2 linked regions of the Homo sapiens genome follow. The protein of the gene in region 1 interacts with the protein of each later gene in a pairwise test. Each region holds a gene or a part of one and is shown on either strand. Other genes may lie near its edges.

The links.
Region 2: the proteins of RMND5B (region 1) and UBE2W interact in a two-hybrid assay, tested with the Homo sapiens proteins (one large-scale study listed by BioGRID and IntAct).

The regions. Positions count from the first base shown.
Region 1 is NC_000005.10:178,137,245-178,141,068, forward strand, and holds part of RMND5B (E3 ubiquitin-protein transferase RMND5B), read left to right. Parts: intron 1-863; 5' UTR 864-875; coding exon 876-1,014; intron 1,015-1,038; exon of another isoform or gene 1,039-1,152; intron 1,153-3,824. UniProt on the Homo sapiens protein: Core component of the CTLH E3 ubiquitin-protein ligase complex that selectively accepts ubiquitin from UBE2H and mediates ubiquitination and subsequent proteasomal degradation of the transcription factor HBP1.
Region 2 is NC_000008.11:73,823,097-73,826,920, reverse strand, and holds part of UBE2W (ubiquitin-conjugating enzyme E2 W), read left to right. Parts: intron 1-1,671; coding exon 1,672-1,774; intron 1,775-3,824. UniProt on the Homo sapiens protein: Accepts ubiquitin from the E1 complex and catalyzes its covalent attachment to other proteins.

The sequences.
Region 1 (3,824 bases):
AAGTCCGTCAGGCCAGCATGGTTGGCAGTTATTCCCCAAGCTGTGTTTCCAAATATCAGCCACTCAAGGACGGCCTTTATGGTTTATGTTACTATAGTACGTAGAAAAGCAGTTCCTCTAACTGTAAGAATGTGGCCATAATAACTCTATGAAAATACACGGGCCGGGCATGGTGGCTTATGCCTATAATCCCAGCACTTTGAGAGGCCAAGGTGGAAAGATCGTTTGAGCCCAGGAGTTTGAGACCAGCCAGGGCAACACAGAGAGACCCGTCTCTACGAAAAAAAATTTTAAATTAGACAGGTGTAGAAGCACACTCCTGTGGTCCCAGCTAGTCAGGAGGCTAAAGTGGGAGAATCCCTTGGGCCTGGGGGGATCAAGGTTGCCATGAGCTGAGTTTGTGCCACTGCACTCTAGCCAGGGCAACAGAACAAGAGCCTGTCTCAAAAAAAGAAAATACATACGTGTAATATGACATTATGCAGTATATGGATTTCTAGTTAGATAGTATTGCCAGCTAAGGGCTCTGTGAGGCCTGCTCTCTATTCTGATTTAAAAGGGAGATGAACAAAAATTAAGGCATGAAAAGAGTTGAAAATGGAATAATAATTTTCTCACCATGATTAAGAAAAACCTCGTCCTCACACCAGCCTGCATCCTCCACTGGGCACCCCAGTGGAGTGAGGAGATGGGATGTTATATGCTTACCAAAACATAGGTACATATATACATATATGTACAAAACATATAACATTGATACATGATGTGGGAATGGTGAGAGGGATCTGAAGAGGTGGTCTGGGCACCCTGCCTGCCATGCCACCGTGGCCCAGATGGGGCCTGACCCAGCTGACCCTCCCCAGGCTGAGGCCACCATGGAGCAGTGTGCGTGCGTGGAGAGAGAGCTGGACAAGGTCCTGCAGAAGTTCCTGACCTACGGGCAGCACTGTGAGCGGAGCCTGGAGGAGCTGCTGCACTACGTGGGCCAGCTGCGGGCTGAGCTGGCCAGCGCAGGTGGGTGGCCACCCTTGCAAGTGCCCTGCGACAGCCTCCCTGAGGACATGGGAGACCCGAAGCTACTGAGTGACAGGGTTCCGGAAGGACGATGATGAGGATGTTGGTACCTGCATCTGTAGGCCTCCTTGAAACCGGGTAATGACAGTCTCTGAGCTACTTCAAAAAGCCCAACAAATTATTAATTTACCTGAGATGATTCCCATTTACATTTTGTTTTCAACTTACTTTTCTATTTTTAACTTTTTTTCATTTTATAATTGTGTGTGTGTGTGTGTGTGTGTGTGTGTAGAAACAGTGTCTTTGTTGCCTAGGCTGGTCTTTAACTCCTAGGGGCTCAAGTGATCCTCCTGCCTCAGCCTCCCAAAGTGCTGGAATTATATGCGTGAGCCACCATGCCTGGCCTATTTTTAGCTTTTAAGATTTTAAAGATAATTTCAAATTTACAGACCAATTCCAAGAATAGTATAAAGAACTGATATATACCCTTTACTTGGATTCACCAACTGCTCATATGTTGCCATATTTGCCGTGATCATTACTTTTTAACCATTTGAAAATAAGTTGTAGATAACATAGCCCCAAGCCTTCAGTGTGTATGTCCTAAAATCAAGGGCATTCTCTTACATAAAAACAGCGTAGTTATTAAAACCCAGAAATTGCCAGGCACAGTGGCTCACGCCTGTAATCCCAGCACTTCGGGAGCCCGAGGCCGACAGATCACCTGAGATCAGGAGTTTAAAACCAGCCTGGCCAACATGGCAAAACCCTGTCTCTACTAAAAATACAAAAATTAGCTGGGCATGGTGGTGGGCTGCAGTGAGCCGAGGTCACGCCACTGCACTCCAACCTGGGCAACAGAGCAAGACTCGTCTCAAAAAACAAAATAAATAAATCAATCCAAGAAATGAAACATTGATATAATATTACCTAATAACTATAGTTCACATTTCTTTTTTTTTTTTTGAGATGGAGTCTTACTGTTGCTCAGGCTGGAGTGCAGTGGCGTGATCTTGGCTCAACTGCAACCTCCACCTCCCGGGTTCAAGCAATTCTCGTGCCTCAGCTTCCCGAGTAGCTGGAATTAAAGGCGCATGCCACCACCTGCAGCTAATTTTTGTATTTTTTAGTACAGGTGGGGTTTTGACATGTTGGCTAGGCTGGTCTCGAACTCCTGACCTCAAGTGATCTGCCTGCCTCGGTCTCCCAAAGTGCTAGGATTATAGGTGTGAGCCACCATACCCAGCCAGTGTAGTCAACATTTCAATTTTGCCATTGTCCCAGGAATTTTTTTTTTTTTTTGATATAGAGTTTTGCTCTCATTGCCCAGGCTGGAGTGCAATGGCGCAATCTCGGTTCACTGCAACCTCCGCCTCCCAGGTTCAAGAGATTCTCCTGCTTCAGCCTCGCAAGTTGCTGGGTTTACAGGCCCGTACCACCATGCCTGGCTAATTTTTTTTTTTTTTTTTTTGGATTTTTAGTAGAGACAGGGTTTTGCCATGTTGGCCAGGCTGGTCTCGAACTCCCGATCTCAGGTGATCCACCTGCCTCAGCCTCCCAAAGTGCTGGGATTACAGGTGTGAGCCACCATGCCCGGCTGTTCAGGAATTTTCATAAAGCATTTTAATTTCCAGTCCAAGAACCAATCCAAGATCACACACTGCATTTAGTTTCTCCTGTCTAATCTTTACTTTTTTTAATCTGAGACATTTCTTCTGTCTTCCTTTATCTTCCATGACATTGGTATTTTTGAAGCATTAAGGCCAATTATTTTGCAGAACGTCTCTCAATTTGGAGTTGTCTGATGTTTTCTCATTACTTAGGTTTTGCATTTTTGGCAGTACTTCAGAAGTGATTTGTTTCTCAGTGCATCACACTGGAAGACACAAGATGTTGCTTTATTGCATTATTGCTGTTGTTCACTTTTATTTTGGAGACAAGTTCTCACTTTGTTGCCCAGGCTGCAGTGCAGTGGCACGATCTTGGCTCACTGCAGGCTTGACCTCCTGGGCTCAAGTGATCCTACCACCTCAGCCTCAGAAGTAGCTGGGACCACAGCAGTACACTACCAGGCCCTGCTAATTTTTTTTTTTTTTTATTGTAGAGACAGGGTCTCCCTATGCTGTCCAAGACGGTGTCGAACTCCTGGGTTCAAGTGATCCTCCCGTGTCAGCCTCCCAAAGTGCTGGGATTATGATCCGCTGCACCTGGCCTGATCTTCACTTTGATCACTTAGTTAAGATGGTCGCTGCTAAGGTTTTCCACTGTAAACTTCCTAATTTTTCTTTGTAATCACTAAGTAGTTTGTGGGCTGTAATCCTAGCACTTTGGGAGGCTGAGGCGGGCGGATCACTCGAGCCCAGGAGGTTGAGACCAGGCTGGTCAACATGGCAAAACCACATCTCTACTAAAAATACAAAAATTAGCCGGGCATGGTGGCACATGCCTGTAGTCCCAGCTACTTGGGAGGCTGAGGCATGAGAATCGCTTGAACCCAGGAGGTGGAGGTTGCAGCGAGCCAAGATCGCGCCACTGCATTCCAGCATGGGTGACAAAGCGAGACTGTCTCAAAAAAAAAAAAAAAGTAGTTTGTGGGGAGATACTTTGATACCATATAAATGTCCTGCTCTTTACCAAATTTCAGCCTACTAGTTTTAGTATCCATTAATGATTGTTGTGTGAATTATTACTAAGCTGTCTGCAACATGGTGATTTTTCCTGCTTTGTCATTCTTTATACATTTATTAGTTGACATTCAACTGAAAAGAAGCTTTCCCTTCTCCTTTCATTATTATCACTTCACACTCATA
Region 2 (3,824 bases), on another chromosome or scaffold:
TTGTTTTGTATGCAGCTTTTGCATTGCATTTAATTTACCATGTATTGACTGAGTCAGGAATGTGCTAGGTTTTTTACGTATGTAGGGTCATTTATCTTTCCAACAACACTATGAGGTGATTATCTTCTGTTTTATTATTGAGGTAGTTAAAACTGGAGAGATAACATAACTTGTTCACACAATGAGTTAAGATTAACTATAACTGCGACTTCAGTATAACTTCAGTTATAACTGTCTAATTTCACTATAAAATATTGTCTCTTGGGTCTGTGGTCGTATCTTTTATTACCATGTATGGTACTCAGCGTGCATTCTTAAAATGAATAGCCATGCTCTTAAGAGTCTGTATACTGTAGCTGATTTCTTTTAGAGAATAGGTACATTTATTATTTTACATAATCCAAGGTTCATAGTATGCGTGGTGATGACTAGAATCCCAACACTGTATTTTCTATCTTCCTTTTGTTTTCTTGTATTTTAAATACAAGAAAGTTTAATAACTGAAAAGTTCAAGAGAATTGCCCAGGTGTACAAGAATTATAAGTGACAGAGCTATAATTAGGAACACATTGTTAATGACTTCAATTCACTTTTGCTTCTAATGCTGCCCTGTTATCTTTGCTGTCATTATCCCTTATTCTTCCCATCTTAAAGAAAATAACAAGAATAGTATATAAACTGTAAATAACACATTTATGTTTATGATTGTTATATATGAAAACAAAGGCTTGCATAGATGGCATAGAAATGGGCTTTATTAAACAATTGAAACATAGTGAGAGATAAAGGAAAGTCACCACAAAGCCTTGCTTAATCATCAGAGTAAGTGGACTGATGTCAATTTAGCTCCCCTTGCCCTGTTAATCTTCTCTAGGATGTTGATGAAAAAAATAAGTCTGACAGCTACGGTTCTCTGTGGTCATTGTCTATACGTATTTCTCCATGGCTTCCACCAGTAATAATCAGAGGCAGTTGCTTTGTTTGATGTTATGTATAGAATACGTAATATCAGCATTGTAGAAATGGTACTTTGAAAAAATAAGGTAGTATAAATCAATTAGGAGGAGCACAGGCTTTGGTGTCAGTGCACCTTAGTTTGAGGTCTGTTTGTTTGTTTATTTTGAGACAGTCTTGCCCTGTAGCCCAGGCTGGAGTGCAGTGGCATGATCTTGGCTCACTGCAACCTCTGCCTCCCGGGTTCAAGCGATTCTCCTGCCTCAGCCTCCTGAGTAGCTGGGATTACAGGTGCACACCACCATGCCCGGCTAATTTTTGTATTTTTAGTAGAGACCGGTTTCACCATGTTGGTCAGGCTGGTCTTAAACTCCTGACCTCGTGATCTGCCTGTCTTGGCCTCCCAAAGTTCTGGGATTACAGGTGTGAGCCACCACACCCGGCCTTGGGTTTTATTTAGTTTGCTTTTTTAGACCTGGCTCTGTCTTTTGCTAGCTGTCTGACCTTGATCTGGTTATTTCACCGCTGAGTGTCAGAGAAGGGGATAGGTCATGAGAATTAACAGTAAGAGAGTTATTGGGAGGCTGGCATGTGCTGTTACACATAACCAACTCTTGTCCTAGTGCTTAGTGTATAGGAAGTACTTGGTGTCCTCTTTTCTCCTCCTTACCCCAGTCTCTATTATCTTAAGTTTTTAATTTGCCTTTTCTATTCTAGGTGGATTGTAGACATGGAAGGTGCACCAGGTACCTTATATGAAGGGGAAAAATTTCAACTTCTATTTAAATTTAGTAGTCGATATCCTTTTGACTCTCCTCAGGTAATTGCCTTGCTTTAAATTTTTTTTTTTGTATTTTTAGATAGCTAAATGCCAGAGATGTTTGACTCAGTAAAAACATATAAATCAGTTATACGTATGTAGATGGATTTGTTATTTCATTATCTTATTTGTCATATAATCAAGATATGAACATTACACTTTATTGGGATTAGGGCTTTACTGCATTTTGCTTCTAAAATTGTTTCATTTGTTGCTTATCCATAAATGCTAACAGAAAAGGGAATAGAAATCTAACCAGGCCTCTAGGCCAGGGGTCCCCAACCCCCATGCTGTGGACTAGTACTGGTCCATGGCCTGTTAGGAGTCGGGCCACACAGGAGGTGAGCAGCATTACTGCCTGAGCTCTGCCTCCTGTCAGATCAGCGATGGCATTAGATTCTCATAGGAGTACGAGCCTTATTGTGAACTGCACATGTGAGGGATCTAGATAGCACGCTCTTTATGAGAATCTAATGCCTGATGATCTGAGATGGAACAGTTCCATCCCAAAACCATCATCCAATCCCCAACCCCATCCATGGAAAAATTGTCTTCCATCACACCGGTCCCTTGTGTCAAAAAGATTGGGGACCACTGCTCTAGGCCATCGGAGAAGTTGACATTTTGGAATAACTGGAGGCACTTCTCCTAGGTCAGATGGTAGAATCACATGGTGAAGAGAAAAGTTCTCTGTTGGAAGGAGTACTATGATTTTGCATTGACATGCTGTCCTTGCAGCCTTTTAGTACAGGAAGGGCAGAGTACATCATCAGATGTTAAATATCTAAACATCAGCACAAAGTCTGATTATTATAATTTGATGCCCAGTGAGTTTAGTTAATAGCTTAATACTTAGACAAGGGATAATGGTGGTAGAGAAATGTTTTTTGAGAGCTATTTAACTATAGTAAATGATTAATCAGGTTAGAGAAAGGAAGACTCTAGGATGACTTCCAGGTTTCTGGCTTGGTAAGATAAGTAAATGAGTTACTATAATTACTTATTCTTCAGAGAATTATAACAAAGCACTTCATTTTTAAAATTTGAGGCTTGTGAGATCCGTTGGCTAAAATGGTAAGACATGATGCCAGCTCTCTCTAGTATTGCTAGCAAATGAGCTATTCTGGAAAATACAACCAAATACCTGAAATATTTCCCAGATACTGAAAATTTTGCTTGTTGGGTGCTGAAATGTACTATTTGGAGGAAAATCATATTTCATTGTCACTTTAAACAATATACCAAACACAGCTTAATCTTTTCTTAGTTATGTAAGAGAAGAGATAAAGTCAGTTATTGTATCATGCTATAAGTAAAGAGATAATTGTTTTAAAGCATAGATTTAAATGGATACTGACTCCTTAAGTTCTAAAATTTTCATATGAGCAGAAAACTACCAAGACTTTTAGGACTTATTTTTATCATTTTCATAAAAGTTAAAGTGAAAGGGTATGTGCTATTGTGACCTCTAGATGTCTACAATAAGCATTTGTAGACTATAATAAAAAGAACAAACATCTTCTCTCCAGAAGATTGTCATCACTTTTGTTGCTTTCTGGCTGGCCAGCATCATTTCTGACTGTAAATGTGTGGAGACAACAGGATCTCAGTCTGTTTTCATCATCAGCCTATTTGTCTACCTTCAACTAAGTTCAATGATGGTATGGGAAGGAAGAATATTTCACACCAATTCAAAAGCTTTTGACTAGGGAGATATTGGGGGAAGGCTTACTCTGGGAGCTTACAGATTTTTCACCAGAGGAAAATAATATTTCTGTAAGCATGAAACCAAGTCAAAAATGTGTTCTCTAAACTCTTTCCTTAATATTTAATTCTAAATCAAATATCAAACTTAAACATTATGTTGAATTTCTTCTTTAATATTTCTGTAAGTTACAGCATTTGTAATAAATTCTCCCTATTGTCCTATTTCAAATTCATTTTATCCTCCTTCCCTGATTTTATTTGTCTGTTCTTCTAACATTGGTGTTATCCAGGTTCTTTATTCAGCACTGTGTTACTCTTCTCACTCTTCTTTCACCTTCAGTCA